Homo sapiens: one gene and its partners. The protein of the gene in region 2 interacts with the protein of the main gene of each other region in a pairwise test. Each region holds a gene or a part of one and is shown on either strand. Other genes may lie near its edges.

Region 1 (5,256 bases), on a different chromosome or scaffold from region 2:
TAAGAAGTCACGATGCAGACGTGGCCTTGGCTCAGACCCTCTGTGCTGGACACAAATGACTTTGATTCAAACTCAAGTCCTTGGAGTGTCACAAAGGACTAACAACGCTGGCTGGGACAAAACCTACAGCTTCTCTAAATGCTGAGGGGCCCCTATGGAGAAATGGCCCAGTGTGTTTCTCATGGGTGTCTCCTCCACTTCCCCACAGAATGCAATGAACTCCTGATTCCCCAGGTCACCTACAGGATATATGTCCAATGGATGGGGATCTCCTGCCTTCCAGAGAATTTGAGGGGAAGAAATGACCTTTTCCTGAGACAGGACCATCTCAATTTAAAAAAAAAAAAAAAAGGAAAAGAAAAACAATGAGCTCAGGAAGGGACAAAACCAAGCTCTTGGACCTTGCATTTTTAGGATATGTGATCCTTTACCCAAAAATAATGATAGCTAACAGACATGCGGCATTTATCATATTCCAGGCACTATCCTGATACTTTGCACACCAAATAGAATGCAATCCTCACAGCAGCCCAATGATGTACTGTTATTATCTCCAGCTTACAAACGAGAGAACTGAGGTGCAGAGAGGTGACGTGACTTAACTCATCCCAGGCTTTCCAGGAGGAGGTCTGATTCCAGATCCTCTGTCATGAGACATTGCAAAGCCCATCCTCACAGCCCTAACTGTGGAATAACCTTTCCAAATTTGCCTTTGTCTGCTGTTGTGCTTGCCTAGCCCTTGCCACTCACCCTTTCTCCCTGCAGCCCCCGACAAAAAGCAACCCCCACCTGCCACATGCCTAAAGCTTCTGTCAAGATTTTCACAGCAAGTCGCTGGGCAGAGTTTTCCTCTCTCCTCCTCTCTTTCTCCTTTTCCTCTCTCTCATTCTTCTCGGTTGCCTCTCCTTTGTGTTTCTCAATGTCTTCTATTTCCTATCTCTGATTCTGTCATGTGTTTCCTATTTGGTCTGACTGCCTCTGTGTCTGCTTCACGCGCGCGTGTGTGTGTGTACGTGTGTGTGTGCGTGTGTGTGTGTGTATCACAAGGCAAATGGAAGCAATATACCTTCTGACAGCCCCCCTACACACATACACACATACACACTCACACACACCATTCAGCCAGAGAGATATTTGCTGCCAGCATCAGCAAACAGCACTAAAAAAAGAATAAGGTCACCTTTGAAAGACCCGGAGAGAATGTGAGTGCAGTCAGATTAGGAAAGCGCTTGTCTATTCTGGGATATCAGGAAGCACTGCTTACCCAGCCCCACCCAACCTACTGCCAGCCGCCCCTGCTGCTGATCTCTCTGTCCTATAATTCCCCAGATGGATCCCTGCAGAGACCCCTCCAGTCCGGGATCCCCACTCTCGTGGTAGGCTCCCTCAGACGCAGCCCCACCATGGTCCTTCGGCCTCAGCAGTTCCAATTCTACCAGCCACAGGGGATCCCCTCCTCCCCCTCAGCCGTGGTGGTGGAGATGGGGTCCAAGCCTGCCCTCACGGGGGAGCCCGCCCTCACGTGCATCAGCAGGGGCAGTGAGGCCTGGATCCACTCCGCGGCCAGCTCCCTCATTATGGAAGACAAAGAAATCCCCATCAAGAGTGAGCCTCTGCCAAAACCGCCCGCATCTGCCCCACCATCCATCCTGGTGAAACCAGAAAACTCAAGAAATGGCATCGAAAAGGTAGGATCAGAGTGACATTGGGGGCCCAACTCTTTCGATCCCGTACTATGCATAGTGTCTCAGCTCAGAGATTTTAGTGTTGGTGAACAAGGAACCAAAATTGCAGCCTCGAAAGAATCCTCACACATAACACTCCTCCTCCCCAACTCCCCACTGAGCCATGGCCAACATCCCCAACATCACCCACGCCCTCCCTACATGTGTTACTGATTCGCCTTTATGTTTCCTGAATATTTTATACATCTTTTGAGGCCCAAAAGTGGCTTGAAAAAAAAGCATGACTTTGGCATTAGATGAATCTTGCTTTGAATTCTAGCTTTGCTGCTTGCTAGCTGGGTGACTTTGGTCAAAATACTTCACCCTTCTGAGTCACTTAGTTTGCATAATCTGTAAAATGGAGGTAGAAAGAGTAATGGCCACACAGTAATGGAGTGGAGATTAAACGAGATATGTGAAGTGCTTACATAGGGTTTGACACATAATTATGCATTGTATAAAAGGGGCAACTGAGGCACAGGATAATGTAAGTGACATCGAGGTCACACTGAATGATAATGACTCCAACTACCTTATTGTGACCTCTGTGGCAGACGTCAGATCTGTTAACTTCTAGTCCAGGATATTTCCCACTAGAAGACGTGAGAGTTTTTGTAAAAGGCTTATGTTCTCAATAATATCCTTGAAGCAGGAGGAATAGTGGGAAGAGAGGACAGTAAGAAAGTTAGGTGATGCTTATTGCTGTCTTAATTTATGAACATCACCATCATCACATCATCGCCATCACCACCTCCATCACCACCGCCATCAGCATCATTCCACCATCATCGTCCATTCCCCTCAGAACGGAAAGAGGATGCGATTCCCCCATTGGTTAACCAGTTATCGAATACTAACAAGCTGGCAGGCACTGTGCTGAGTACTTCATGTGTCCCATATATTTAATCCTGACAACAACCCTCTCAAATAGGCATTAGTTTCATCCTCATTTTAAAATTAGGAAATGGCAGCTCAGGGAGTTAAAGAACATTACCCAAGACCGCACAGTTGACACATACGTGTGGAGTAGAATCCAGATCTGATGCAAAACTCATGCTCTTACTGCTAAGCTATCAGCTCATAGGGAAAGGTATTGGAAAAAGCACTGACATATATAAAGGTTGGGAGTTCTTATTCTGAATTATAGAAATAATTCAGAGTTTTCTAGGCCCCAGTTGCCCATTACTCCAAGCTTTTAGATACAACTATAAGCATTTCATAAATGCCCAGACCTTGGCTAGATATTAGGAGGATCAGAACGTATGAAGAAACTCAGATCTTAGTGGGGGATACTAGGGTTGCATTACATGGAAGAAAGACATCATTCCTGAGCAGTACCACAGAACGCTTTATTAGGCCCTGAGATAGAGACTGGCTAAAGCAAATACTGTACCTATGGGTGCCTAGCAGATATATAACAGGCTAGGAGATGTGAAAGGAAAGAGGAAGAGGGGGAATTGGCATAAACTGGAGACCTTGCATCTCATATAAAGGGGGCACTGCTTCTCAGGTCCAGCCAGCTGTTGTCAGAATGAGCCATAGGCCCAGTGCGTCAGAGCTTTGATTTTTTTTTTAAGAGACATATGAAATTCTGATTTTTATATGCAATCTCCCAATTTTTATGTGTTGGCGAGTCGATCAAACCCTCAAACATTCTGCAGGCTAAATTCAGCCAGCAGGTGTCCAGTTTGCAAACTGTGCTCTAAGGATTTATAAGGCCATTATGGAAATCTCTAAATGGAGTCATCAGGAGAGTGGCCTCAAAGAAAAGGAAAAACTTGAGATTGGCCTTAATAGTACGTAGAGAGGAGAGAGGCAAGGTAAATTTCTTTAATCTTCCAGAAGGGATCATACCCTCTTGCCTCAGGCTGTTTTTATAGGCGGCGGCCTACCCTATTTCTCCCAGATAAGTCCTAATCCTTTTGTGGTTCTCAATTTAAAGCTTCTGGGAAGACTTCCCTGGCTTCTCCACTTCCAGCTGAAGTTAGATGCTCCTCTGCATTCTCAGCATCTTGTACTTCCCCCATCTTAGCACTTGACACTCATGGTAGCCACAGATATTTGCAGAATGAACACATAAATGAGACATTTCAAGTGGGGACAAGCATGGGGAAATAGACATCTCCCACCTCACCTGTGTCCATTTCCTCTCCTTTCTCTTGCAGCAAGTCAAAACCGTGAGATTTCAGAATTACAGCCCTCCTCCCACCAAACATTACACCTCCCATCCCACCTCCGGAAAGCCTGAACAGCCAGCCACCCTCAAGGCGTCCCAGCCTGAAGCAGCGTCCTTGGGCCCAGAGATGACCGTCCTATTTGCCCACCGAAGTGGCTGCCACTCCGGACAGCAGACAGACCTCCGGAGAAAGTCAGCTCTTGGCAAGGCCACAACCCTGGTGTCCACTGCCTCAGGCACGCAGACCGTGTTTCCCAGCAAATGAACCTACGGGTGGCTTTTCCTAGACCCCAAAGAGGTGAATTGCATTTAAATACAGTCTGCCTCCACTGAGGGCATCCTGCCATTCTTTGGGGACTTGAGCATGGGTCCTTGTTCTTCCTATTTCACCTCCAGGAAAGCAAAAGTGGGAGCAGAAATTCCTGCCCTGGGTGGGAGGATAGATGGCGTGGCCTTCCAAACATACAAACATAATGATTTGATGCCACAAAGCTCGCTTACTCAGACCAAGGAGTGAAAAATTGTCGTGCCCACTTTATGCCCCAGCATGGAGTATGTGGCCTCTTGTCATCCCCGTGTTACTGTGTAGAATTTCTATGGTGTCCTAAAGGGGGCTGCAGCAGGGGTGTGACAACGGTGGGATTGTTGGCGTTGCTTCTTTGACCTTACAATATCCTCAACAAGCATTAGAACAACTTCTGCCATCTTCTGGGGCCTGTACACTGGCCACTAGTAGCTGCCATATCTTTTTCCCTCTGTAAAGTCATAATCCTGGCTGCAAAGGGAGGATTTCTGCGCGGGGTGTGAGGTGGATACTTTGAACATTCTGAGAACCCAATAAAACTAGAAGGAGCCAGCTTCCTGAGTATGCTCCACTTAAGAAGGTCAGAGAGATCACTGAGTACCAAATATCAAAGGATTATCATACTTTAAGCTTCTCGATCCATTTTCCCACATATAATCCTATGCAATAGATAAGCAGAAAGCATGTGGCTGTGGATAGGGCCATGTATGGCATTATGGACAATTAATTCATCCTGGCTCTACAGTCTGACTTCAAGAAAACACAGCGTGCTTACAAACAATCTTATATGGGGTTAGGGTTTAGATATATAGTCTGACTTCAAGAAAGCACAACGTGGGCCAGGTGCAGTGGCTCATGCCTATAATCCTGGCACTTTGGTAGGCCGAGGTGGGCAGACCACTTGAGGTCAGGAGTTTGAGACCAGCCTGGCCAACATGATCAAACCCCATCTCTACTAAAAATACAAAAATTAGCCAGGCATGATGGCGCACACCTGTAATCCCAGCTACTCTTGAGGCCGAGGCATGAAAATAGCTTGAACCCGGGAGGCG
Region 2 (4,252 bases):
AACGCCAGCGAAAGACCAAGCGCAAAACCAAAGAGCAGCTGGCTATCCTTAAATCCTTTTTTTTACAGTGCCAGTGGGCACGGCGTGAGGATTACCAAAAGTTAGAACAGATCACTGGTTTACCTCGGCCTGAGATCATTCAGTGGTTTGGTGACACACGCTATGCCTTGAAGCATGGGCAACTAAAGTGGTTTCGGGACAACGCAGTACCTGGTGCCCCTAGTTTCCAAGACCCAGCAATTCCTACACCACCACCATCAACCCGCTCCTTGAACGAAAGGGCTGAGACACCACCTCTGCCGATCCCTCCACCCCCACCGGATATACAACCCTTGGAGAGGTACTGGGCAGCCCACCAACAGCTACGGGAAACTGATATCCCTCAATTGAGTCAGGCATCAAGGCTTAGCACCCAGCAGGTGCTGGATTGGTTTGACTCTCGATTACCTCAGCCAGCTGAGGTGGTAGTTTGTCTAGATGAAGAAGAGGAAGAGGAGGAGGAAGAACTGCCAGAAGATGATGAGGAAGAGGAGGAGGAGGAGGAGGAAGATGATGATGATGATGATGATGATGTGATCATACAAGACTGAGTGGGGAGCTGGGGGAGGGGAGGTCTGTTACTGAAAGATGAACCAACTTAGTAACTGTTTAAACAAAGAAACCACATTTTTAAAATTACCTTGTGGCAGAGAACTAAAAAGCTTTGTGTTCTTCAGGGTGGGTGGCAGGGGGATATAGTGAGGGTGGACCAGGGAGAATGACCATAGGGCACTAAGTAAGGCTGGGATTGGATCAGCAGAAATCCAACCCTCTAACCTTAGGGTAGGGAGTGCTAAGGATCTGGGGAAACCATGGGCTGGGAAGCTGCTCTTGCTCTCCTCGTGTCTGCTGTTTTTTTCCCTTGGTGTACTATACAGAGGCCAGATGTTGGCACCACCTCTCCAGGAGGATTGGAAAGGAGGAGTAAAGGATTCTGATTTGATTGATGATTCCAGTGCATCCCCAATCCCACCATCTTACCTGGAATATAAGGCTGCCTTGTACCCCTTTTCTGAGCACAAGTCTGTGCGTAATGCAACTGACTCTCTTACTTTTTTCTTAGTAACTGATCATTTCCTAGACAACCAAGATTCTCAATAAGTCCCAGTCTCATCACAAATATTAATATTTCCTTTTCCTCATACCAACTTGACTATGTTTCACCCGCTTCATGACTAAATCACAGGTGGCAGAATTTTTCAGTTCTTTTTTTTTTTTTTGAGGTGGAGTCTTGCTCTGTCGCCCAGGCTGTAGTGCAATGGCGCAATCTCAGCTCACTGCAAGCTCCGCCTCCCAGGTTCATGCCATTCTCCTGCCTCAGCCTCCCGAGTAGCTGGGACTACAGGCACCTGCCACCACACCCGGCTACTTTTTTATATTTTTAGTAGAGACGGGTTTCATCATGTTAGCCAGGATGGTCTTGATCTCCTGACCTCATGATCCGCCCACCTTGGCCTCCCAAAGTGCTGGGATTATAGGCATGAGCCACCGTGCCCGGCTATTTTCAGTTCTTATGCTGTGACCACTTTGCCTTGTAGCTTTTTCTATCTTTCCAAAATCCTCACTCTGTTCATTGTTTGTCTCAGGGAAAATCTTCCCCCACCGAGCTTGTAAAAAACTTTAATAATTGGGTGGAGAATAATTTAGAATGGATATTTATTGGAGGTGGTAATTAGGGAAGATGTCCTTTTAAACAGTAGAATTGTGTTACAAAGGGGTGAAAGAGAGGGAATAGTTTCTCCTTGTTGAAGGGCAGTGAAGGTAGGTTTCAGGTTTGGTTTTACAAACCTGTTAACTACCTCCTGTCCAGCTTGACAGAGACTAATTTTTCATCTTTTTGCTGTCAATTTGTTTCCAGAAAAGAGACTTTTCCCTCTCTTGATAGGATCTGTCTTAGGGACAGAGGGACCATCGTCTTTAAGTGAATTAATTATTGATGTTTTAGAATGGTTTTCATCAGTTGGGATCAGCTATATGGCAAATAGGTATCATCAATGAGTTAACCATCTAAAAATAAAAGAGTGGAAGCCCTAAAATGCTAGAATAATAATAAAAAGGCCAAAAATAAAATTGTTTCTCTCTCAACCACTTTGCCACTCCTATGGTTTAGGGATTAATGGAACCAAATCCATTAACATTCTAACTCAGCATACTTTTAACTTATTGTTTGGAGGGGCAGGACTTATTGAGGTAAATTAAAAGAACAAAAACTGTAAAAAGGAAGTAGTTCAGCATCTATCGCCAGCCAGGTTGTTTCTCAGCCATCAAATGATAATGACTAAAATTTCTGAGGCTTCAGGAGTAACAGAGATACAACAGTCTTGGAGGTAACTCCATTTGCTACAGGACAGGCCCTTGCCTAAAAGAGAAGGTATCTAGAAATGCCTTTAAAATAAATTCAGAGTACCAGAAAGGGTATGGGGATCCTAGTTCAGATACAAGATCATTCCCAAGACCTAATTTATTTCTGGCAGATGCCTGCTATTTTCTGTTTTTCCAGTATTTTTGCTTAAGGCCAGCTTGTGAGTGGCTAACCTATTTAATTCGTCATTTCTGCCTTTTAAAACCCAAAGTAGAATACATGTTTGATCTCAGTGATAGTGTTGTTCGCCCATTCCACCATTCTAGAGCTTGTAAAAGTGATAGAATTGTAGCAATAAAAGGGCATCGTCTTTATTTTACTATCTATATACTAAGCTGAAAATCAGTGTCTCCAACAGTTGTTTTCAATAGAAAGGAAAATTAACATTTAATAGTAACTAAGCATAGAGGAAATAATAGACAAATAAAAAAGTATAATAAGGAAAAGAACAGAGATATTGCTCGTTAACATTGGCAATGGGACAGTATATCCAAAGCTAAAAATGAAATCCAGAAATGAAACAGTGATGAGTATATGATCCATCACAATCCCCATTCCCAACTCCCAACCAAGCATGATGCCAAGAATTATTTTTTTGACCTTTGTTCCAAATTGTAGGAAATGAGGGGAGCTACCAGTGTCTTCTGGAAGAGATATAAACATCTTCCTGAAGCACTAGCCTTTTGTAAGACCTGACCACTGTCCTGGGAGGTGATAAGGGTGAATAGGGTAAAGATGGGGGGAGCATAAGGTACAGAGTGAAACTAGGAAACAATGCAGGGATACATTTTCCAGGGCCATCACCCCTAATGCGTACTGGAAGCTACAGTCCATCCTTCAGCAGCATGTATAGATCAGATCTTGAAGATGATCTATCTAGAAGTGGTCCATGCTTCTCTCCCACTGGGTAATCCCATATGCCTCCGTTGTTGGTAGAGAGTCTGCAGCAGAGGACAAGAAGGTAGATGTGGGTGTTTATAACAGCAAAAAGGGCAAGCAAGTCTCTCTGACCTGTTGTATGAAGCTTATCGAGACAGACACCACTGCTTTTGCTTCCCCATAGTTTTCTTCATTGCATGATAACTAACTTTTCCAAACTAGGATTTGCTACATCTAGTGTGACAATCTCTGGAACATTTCAGTAGCTTATGGTGATAATAATAAGGATGAATATTTGAAAATTAAACTATTTTGGAAAATCTGGGACATATGACTACCACACCCAGAGATGACTACCAGGGAGGCAGAGTTCTTAGGCCTCTGAGGAGGTGGCATTTCCTTCAATAACTTTAAAATTTTTTCACATTTTCGGTTGTTTGTTTGTTTGTTTGTTTGTTGTTTTTTTGAGATGGAGTCTCGCTCTGTCACCCAGGCTGGAGTGCAGTGGTGCATCTCCGCTTACTGCAAGCTCCGCCTCCCGGGTTCACGCCATTCTCCTGCCTCAGCCTCCCACGTAGCTGGGACTACAGGCGCCCGCCACCATGCCCGGCTAATTTTTTGTACTTTTTTTAGTATAGACGGGGTTTCACCATGTTAGCCAGGATGGTCTCGATCTCCTGACCTCATAATCCGCCCGCCTCGGCCTCCCAAAGTGCTGGGATTACAGGCATGAGCCACCACGCCTGGCCCACATTTTCAAAAAATACATAGAATAGTATAATGAACTCATGTGCCCATTGTCCATCTTTAACAAATAATTAATGGCCAATCTTTTATTTCTACTCTCCCAGTGTCCCTCCCTACTAAATTACACTGATGCAAACGCCAGACATCATTTGACTTTCCATCCATAAATACTTTAGTATGTACCTATAAAAGAGAAAGGCTATTTTTAAAAACATAACTACGATA
Region 3 (6,984 bases), on a different chromosome or scaffold from region 2:
ATTACACCAGCAAGAGAATATTAATAGTCCATATGGCTTTATTTCCAACAAAATCCCAGAGTTTTTGCTTGCTCTTTGAGGTTAAAATCAAAGATTTTTCACTCAGGATTAGCCTAGATGTAGAACAGCGACTGTATAATAAAGTTGAGTTCAAAAAGTGTATGAATTCAGTTATGGTCTGGAAAATTAGCTGCCATTTTGTGATGAAGTGTTTGGTTTTTCCTTGTAGAAACTTAGTGTCATTGCGCATCAACTTAGAAAATGTGAATTGATTAAAAATATGTGATGGATTGTGCAGCATGCTTACATTTGAAAATGGAGATTGTGCCTTTAAATACTTAATCAAAGGACTCCTGACCTTCAAGTACCAGTTTGGGCATATTACTGGAGATCCAGGTTGAAAGGTATTGAAAAAAAAGCTCTGTATCTTTGTATATTCAGTTGTCAACATGGAGAAGCCACCTTTTAAAAAAGATCAGTTCTGTAAAGCATAATGCCTACTACACAGACATCATTATTCTACTTAAAAGTCTTTTTTTAAAATTCCAAATACTTGTGGTAGTAGAAAGCAATAAATATTCTAAAATGAGGGATATTGGTCCTTTTGTGACTGAGCTATATGATAAACTAAGGAAAACTACAGAAGTTATGTCTATTAACTCTTTAAGGTACATGATATAGCAAATAATCATTTGTACAACCTCATAGAAAGTTGAGAGGATTAATCAAATTGTTTCAAAATTTTTAAGGAGCCAAATTTAAATTCTCAATACCCTATGAGATTTTTTAAACTATTTTAGATTCTTACCAGAAGAATGCATAGATGTAGTAAAACCATTAAATACAGTAGTATCTGGTGGCCTTTCTGTGTGGAGGAGCTCGTTTGTCCAAGGTATGATCTACCAGTGAGAAGATCAGTGCCAGGTCACAGAAAAAGCTAATCATTTTTAGTTTAATCCTGACCAGCTAGTCTTCCTCCAGGCATCAGCTACCTGATTTTAAAGAGACCATATTAGAAATGAAAAGCAGCAGTCTCTATCATATGTTAAATTCAAAGGCATAGCTGCTCGTGAAGACCCTATTATGTTTTATTTGCCTATCGGAGAAAGAGATCTGCCTACCTGCCTTTAGGAAAAAGCAATGCTTTATGTAGCTTCAATTAGTCCTGCATCAGGTTATTCTAATGCTTCCTACTGCAAAAACCAAGCCCACAAGTCTCCAATCCTAAAAGTCACTAGAATATTGATATAAGGAATTCTGTGTCAGCAGTATCTCAGTATTCAAACCTCTGTTTAGGGTCCTGCATGTACTATCAAACAGCAAGTGATAGAACATTCAGGCGTTTTATTGGATTTCAGAATTCAGATTCAGAATTAAGTACTCTTGGGATAAAGGAAATTAACGAGCTTTTGACATTTCAAGAACTCATTGAGATTGTCAAAGGCTTCAGTAATGAACTCTAACAAATAGATCCAGAAGTCATAAGTGAGAAAGAAAACAAGCATGTCTAGTGAAATCTGTCCAGTGTACGTAACACTGCACAAAGAGCATATTTTATTCAGACCATTTGGATTCAGATGTACCCTAAAGACAACTATGCTATAATGGCTTGTCTCCTACTTCCTGGCCTCTAGCCCTACCCATTGCCCAGGTGGACGTTATGTTTTTAGTTTTTCCTTTGTGGGTGAGGGAAGAAGAGGACATCAGGTGAAGTGTGCCATTACTATTTGAAAACTAGCTCTGCAGGAAGGGTTAAATCAAATCCTTTACAGGGTGACCTTCCTACATCTCCTTAGAGCAACTGCATTTCAAAATAGGCCAAAGCTGAAGTCATAGGAATGAGACATTAATTGTAGGTTTTCAGGAAAGCTTCGGAGACACGGCAGGTACAGTCTCCTTAGAGCCTTTGAAAATACAACATGTAGGTCCTTCTCAGATTATGCTGAAACTCCAAATCCTTGTTAAAGGTTTTCCTGGACTCCTACAGTCTGGTTTGATCAGTTTATTATTAAGTACTGAATGACAGAGAAGGGTACACAGGGAGGACTTGTATCACATGAAGTAAAATAATTATTTCCTTAATGAGAAACTTAATTCTAGGGTACTTACAATAGCTGCCTTATTGGGGGAAGGGAGGCATAGATTTGCAAATGGTGGGTTTTTTCGTTTTTTTGTGTGTTGGAGTAATTGAAAAGATACATCAAGCAATAATAAACTAGATGTGCAATAATCTTGTCGAGTAGTATGTGCTGGTTTTGGAAAGGTGAAAAGAAAATTGTTACATCAGGCTGCTTTTATCAAGCTAAGCATGGGCATGCCTTTCCAAAGGGTATATTTGATCCTACAGTTAATTTTAACATTGGGCTGCAAGCTTAACCTCATCAGGAGTGGAATTAGATTTTACAAAGTTCCCCTTATCCAAACTACAGCACGCTTACTACTTTCTCCTTCCATTTTCCACACCTCAGCCCCCTAGGACCAGCTACTGGTAAGTCATTTTGTCCATTTTCATTGATCTGGCCACATAAGGAACATCCTGTTTCTTTAAATCCTCAATGCTTAAATTGCCATGTAGAAATCAACTCCCTATCAATTTTCTACATTTAATCCTTGGCTTCTTGTCATATTTTCATTTTTCTGCACTGGTTCCCATGGCAACAAGTCTGTTGGCAGAGAAAGTATGACTCTGCTTTTAGCCTTCTGCACAAGACAAAATCCTTCTGGTGATCCTCAGGCAAGTATAATATAAAAAGTCAGGAATTGACTACAGTTCCCTTGGCTAATGCCTCTAATCCTTTACTCTCTTGCATGCATTTTCCACCTTATTCCCAAACCAGGCTTGAGAAAAAAAGCATTCAAGGGCCCTGCCCAGTATCTCTTTACTGATACAAGTATTCAAAGGCCCTCCTATCCAATCACAGCCACAAAGACTGAATATTTTGGTTCAGATGGCTTTCCCTTCTCCCTAAGTGTCAGTGACTTAACTGACATAAATGCATAATTAATGACAAGGACCACTGGGAGCAGCATCGAGAAGCAACTTTCAGTCATTTTTCTATAAACAACTTTCCTCAGTTCGCAACTGAGGTGTAGCCCAGGGAATAAGTATGTCCTGAATTGAGCCTTAAATCAGTGACTAATAAGGCAATGGAACACTCAAGCAGATTTTCCTCTAATGAGTAGTTAAGTGGCACAGGAGGAGAGGCCAAGGAGTCATCCCAGAGTTCTAAGCTCATAAAGAGGAAGAGATAACAAAAGATGTAGATAAGAGGACATTGTTAACTGGTGGCTGCAAATGAGCAAGGGAGCTTCATTCAGTTGGGACAATTCAGGGTTCAGGTACGAAAAGGGTATGAAGCCTACTGAAAAATAAGGAAATGGAGCATGGAGAAAGAAAGGGTTTTTAAGAGTTAAGTCAGTAGAAAGGGAGCCTGCAAATGAGACAATAGCTTCATGCAGACTTTGGCCCAACTCTGTCTACAAATACTTTTGCAAATAATGTTTCTCTTAATAAAATGATATATTTTGTTTTGAACTTTGGAATTCCATTGTGGCTTGGCACTAAATTATAGGCCTAGCAATCCTAAATCTCCTATGTCCTCAATATCTAGAAACAAGCAGGAACTGTTTGTCAGAAATTAAACAGGACTTATTTGAATGTGCTTTAAAAAAAAAATCAATGAATTCAGGGGAATGAAAATACATGTTAGAAATTAAAATGTGGTTATCTCAGCTATAGTTAAGAAAATTATCAAATGTAAATGATCCCTTTTTTGCTGGATCTTATAAAATATGTGATACTTAAGTACACTGAAGTTTTAAAGTTAGCTGCTTATATTGTACAAAGATATTTTTGGCTCTTTAAAGGTTATTTTCCTATATTAAGAAAAGGTTTCTTATATTGAAAACTTTTATGGTGACTCAGGTTTTGTGTCTATGTATAGGCACACATAAATAGGAGGTGTTTTTCTTTGCACATTTGTTTTGCACAGCTAAAATAATGAGGTTAAATAATGCCCAGGTATGCAGGTCAATTGACCTTTTTAATAGCTTAACGAAAGCATTTGACAAATGGACAAAAGAAATCACATTGTATTTCTTTGTATCTCTCCATTCCTCTTACCCTTCCCCAACCCTCTACTAAAGAATATTTCTTATTTAGTCAGGAAATCTTATGTAATATTTTTGGACGGTCCATAGGAAAAGCAAGATGAAACTCTCAGGCAGACAACATAAAGCAGCTCCCATATCTGCTAGAAAGGTCATTAATTTTCAGAATATATTGTTGAAATAATTTTTATTTTCAATACTTGTAGTCTTTCCACTCAGAGGACTCTTATTTGGCTTGAATGTGGAAAAGGCATCTGGTTCAGGTCAGTAAGGACTGTTGTATGTAAGTTTTACTCTAGAAAATTTGGTTTTAGCTTTGATGACACCTAGCGTCAGTGGAATGCAATGAATGCTTAATACTTCGGCTTTATAATGTTTGGGCATTTCTCTTTAACATCCTCAAATACACTTTCATCCTTGAAAACACAAGCCTATTTTCTGTTTGAAATGAAGAGAAAGGTAATTGACAGATAAACAGATAGTTTTTGTTTGAAGAGCCAATCAAGTTTCTCTTTGTACTCAGTAGGGACTAAAGGAAGCTTAAGGATAATGACATTGTCTTCATATGAAGAAGAAATTTTTTACTAGTGGAAAATTAGAAGTAAATCTACCAAATTCTGTTTGTAAATTTTAAAGACCACCACAAAAGACCTTGAAAAAAGTGAAACTACTGCAAGATTACTGTTGCTTATTGAAAGTAATAATACAGTTTTATTTTTTCCACTTTATAACTGCCCAAGGGCTCCCCCAACCAGCTATATATAAGAAAACCATAACATGAACTAGGGTCTTTCTATTCAAAAAAGAAATATTAAACTAACATAAGCAATTCTGAAGGAAGACAGTGGTAGGTTTTCAGATGGTTTGTTAAGAATTATATGTAAAAGGATACTAGATATTATGTTTTGGATGTTTTCTAAGTATCTATGAAAATTATTTTTTCCTAAACGATTTCATAATTGATTACTTTTGACCTCAGTTATTTTGGGGCATAATCCTTTTACTACTCTATAAAGAAGTTCTACTTCTACCTATATGAATTTGTATTTTCCCATATGCCAAACACACACACATAAATTTTCTTTTTCTCATTTCAGCTCATATAATTCAGTTAGTGAAATATTTCACTCTTCTGTAAGTTTAAGAAAAATTCCTAAGCAGTGATACAACTTTGGGTCGCTATTTTAGTAAAATGAAGAGTCTCTAGACTTTTTTTTTTTTTTTAATGATCTCTGACTTCACTACCATATGTGCAGCACAACAGTGACATCTTAAGGCCAAGTAACCAGAGCTCCTTTAGCCAGAGAAAGAACTTGAATTGGGATCTGATTTCAAAGAAATCCCATTATATTATCAAGTCGTTTTCAAATTTACAATATTCGACTGGTAAAGAAAGTGCTTCTTTATGACTTCTTTTGCAGTCTTTGTGAACCTTTTAATGTGCAATAGTAAACATTGACATTTTACATAGACATATTGTATATTAATGCATGCATTTCACTGCATAGTTTATTGACACTACCCTTGTAAAGCTTTTATGGAAGAACCAACAAGCCACAGCAGTATAGCAAAAGAGGCTTAATCTTTATAAATTGGGGCCTTTTCTGTCTCTTTGCTAGCCTAGGTGGCTGTATACAAATTCGGGTGGGAGGGGGCAGGAAACACCTCTTCACATTTAAGGTTTTCTACTTGGGTGTACTCTAGCCAATTCAAAACAAATTGCTTACTTTAATAATACAATTTTACCATTTTATAAAAAAAATCAAATCACAACATGTTTAACTGAAATGGCTGTATTGTAATTAATATTTTGAGATAATTGTGATTTTGAGCTTAAATTATATATAAAAAATTGTCATTTTTGTATGTGTTAAAAAGACTACTATATCACAATTAAAAGTACTTTTTAGTTGAACTACATATTGATGTAAATAAAACTGAATGAAGACATATTTACTACTTTATTAACATAGATCGTGAATGTACTTACTGGTTTTTTTGCAGTATGAGACCATAACAACCTTGAAAGCTGCTTCATTTTATGTGCAAAGAAGTCCTATGAATCTATATTTTAAATTTACTGAACCAGTGAAATTAATTACTGTCAGTTAATTTGCAAATGCAAGCTGTATTCTCCAGTTTTATTTTATGTACTGACACTAATTGGTAAAGGTGTACAATGTGATTAGAATGCATTTTGAAGATGCTTTCTGTACAGATACAAAATACAGGGACTAAAATAATGCTGTGCAGTGTATAGCAGAGCCATTTTTCGGCTTTGGTGTACTCAACTTTTTCAGTATTTAAAAAAGTGTTTTGAATAACATAAAAGTCTCCTTATTGTATAAATAATAAAATGTCACCTTATTGTAAAGTGTCTTTTGTTTACTATCAAAGCAGACCTCGTAGTCAGCAACAGAGATGTAATAAGAAAAAGGCATGTTTTTGTTTTTATTTTTTATTTTTTTGAGATGGAGGAGTTTCACTCTTACCCAAGGCTGGAGTACAGAGTGGCGCGATCTCAGCACTCTGTCATCCTCTGCCTCCTGGGTTCAAGTGATTCTCCTGCCTCAGCCTCCCAAGATGCTGAGATTACAGGCACATGCACCATGCCCGGATAGTTTTTTTTGGTTTTGTTTTTTGTATTTTTAGTAGAGACGGGGGTTTCACCATGTTAGCCAGGCTGGTCTTGAACTCCTGACCTCAAGTGATCTGCCCGCCTCAGCCTCCCGAAGTGTTGGGATTACAGGCGTAAGCCACTGCCCCCAGCCAAAAAGGCATGTTTTTTTTAAAATGAAAACATAAACATTGTAATCAATATTTGAAAAATGTAACTTTTATTCTGAACATGTAGTATTTATCTTTATTAGCAAT

Evidence for each region. Proteins that work in one complex are often made in the same cells at the same time.
Region 1: the proteins of HOMEZ (region 2) and SH3RF2 interact in a two-hybrid assay, tested with the Homo sapiens proteins (2 studies listed by BioGRID).
Region 3: the proteins of HOMEZ (region 2) and LRRC7 interact in a two-hybrid assay, tested with the Homo sapiens proteins (2 studies listed by BioGRID).

Annotation. Positions count from the first base shown.
Region 1 is NC_000005.10:146,058,537-146,063,792, forward strand, and holds the end of SH3RF2 (E3 ubiquitin-protein ligase SH3RF2), read left to right. Parts: intron 1-1,329; coding exon 1,330-1,688; intron 1,689-3,889; coding exon 3,890-4,165; 3' UTR 4,166-4,756; downstream 4,757-5,256. UniProt on the Homo sapiens protein: Has E3 ubiquitin-protein ligase activity. Acts as an anti-apoptotic regulator of the JNK pathway by ubiquitinating and promoting the degradation of SH3RF1, a scaffold protein that is required for pro-apoptotic JNK activation.
Region 2 is NC_000014.9:23,271,913-23,276,164, reverse strand, and holds the end of HOMEZ (homeobox and leucine zipper protein Homez), read left to right. Parts: coding exon 1-590; 3' UTR 591-3,273; coding exon of another isoform or gene 3,274-3,342; 3' UTR 3,343-3,743; downstream 3,744-4,252. Other genes in the region: E3 ubiquitin-protein ligase RNF212B, read right to left, coding at 3,274-3,342. UniProt on the Homo sapiens protein: May function as a transcriptional regulator.
Region 3 is NC_000001.11:70,137,881-70,144,864, forward strand, and holds the end of LRRC7 (leucine-rich repeat-containing protein 7), read left to right. Parts: 3' UTR 1-6,484; downstream 6,485-6,984.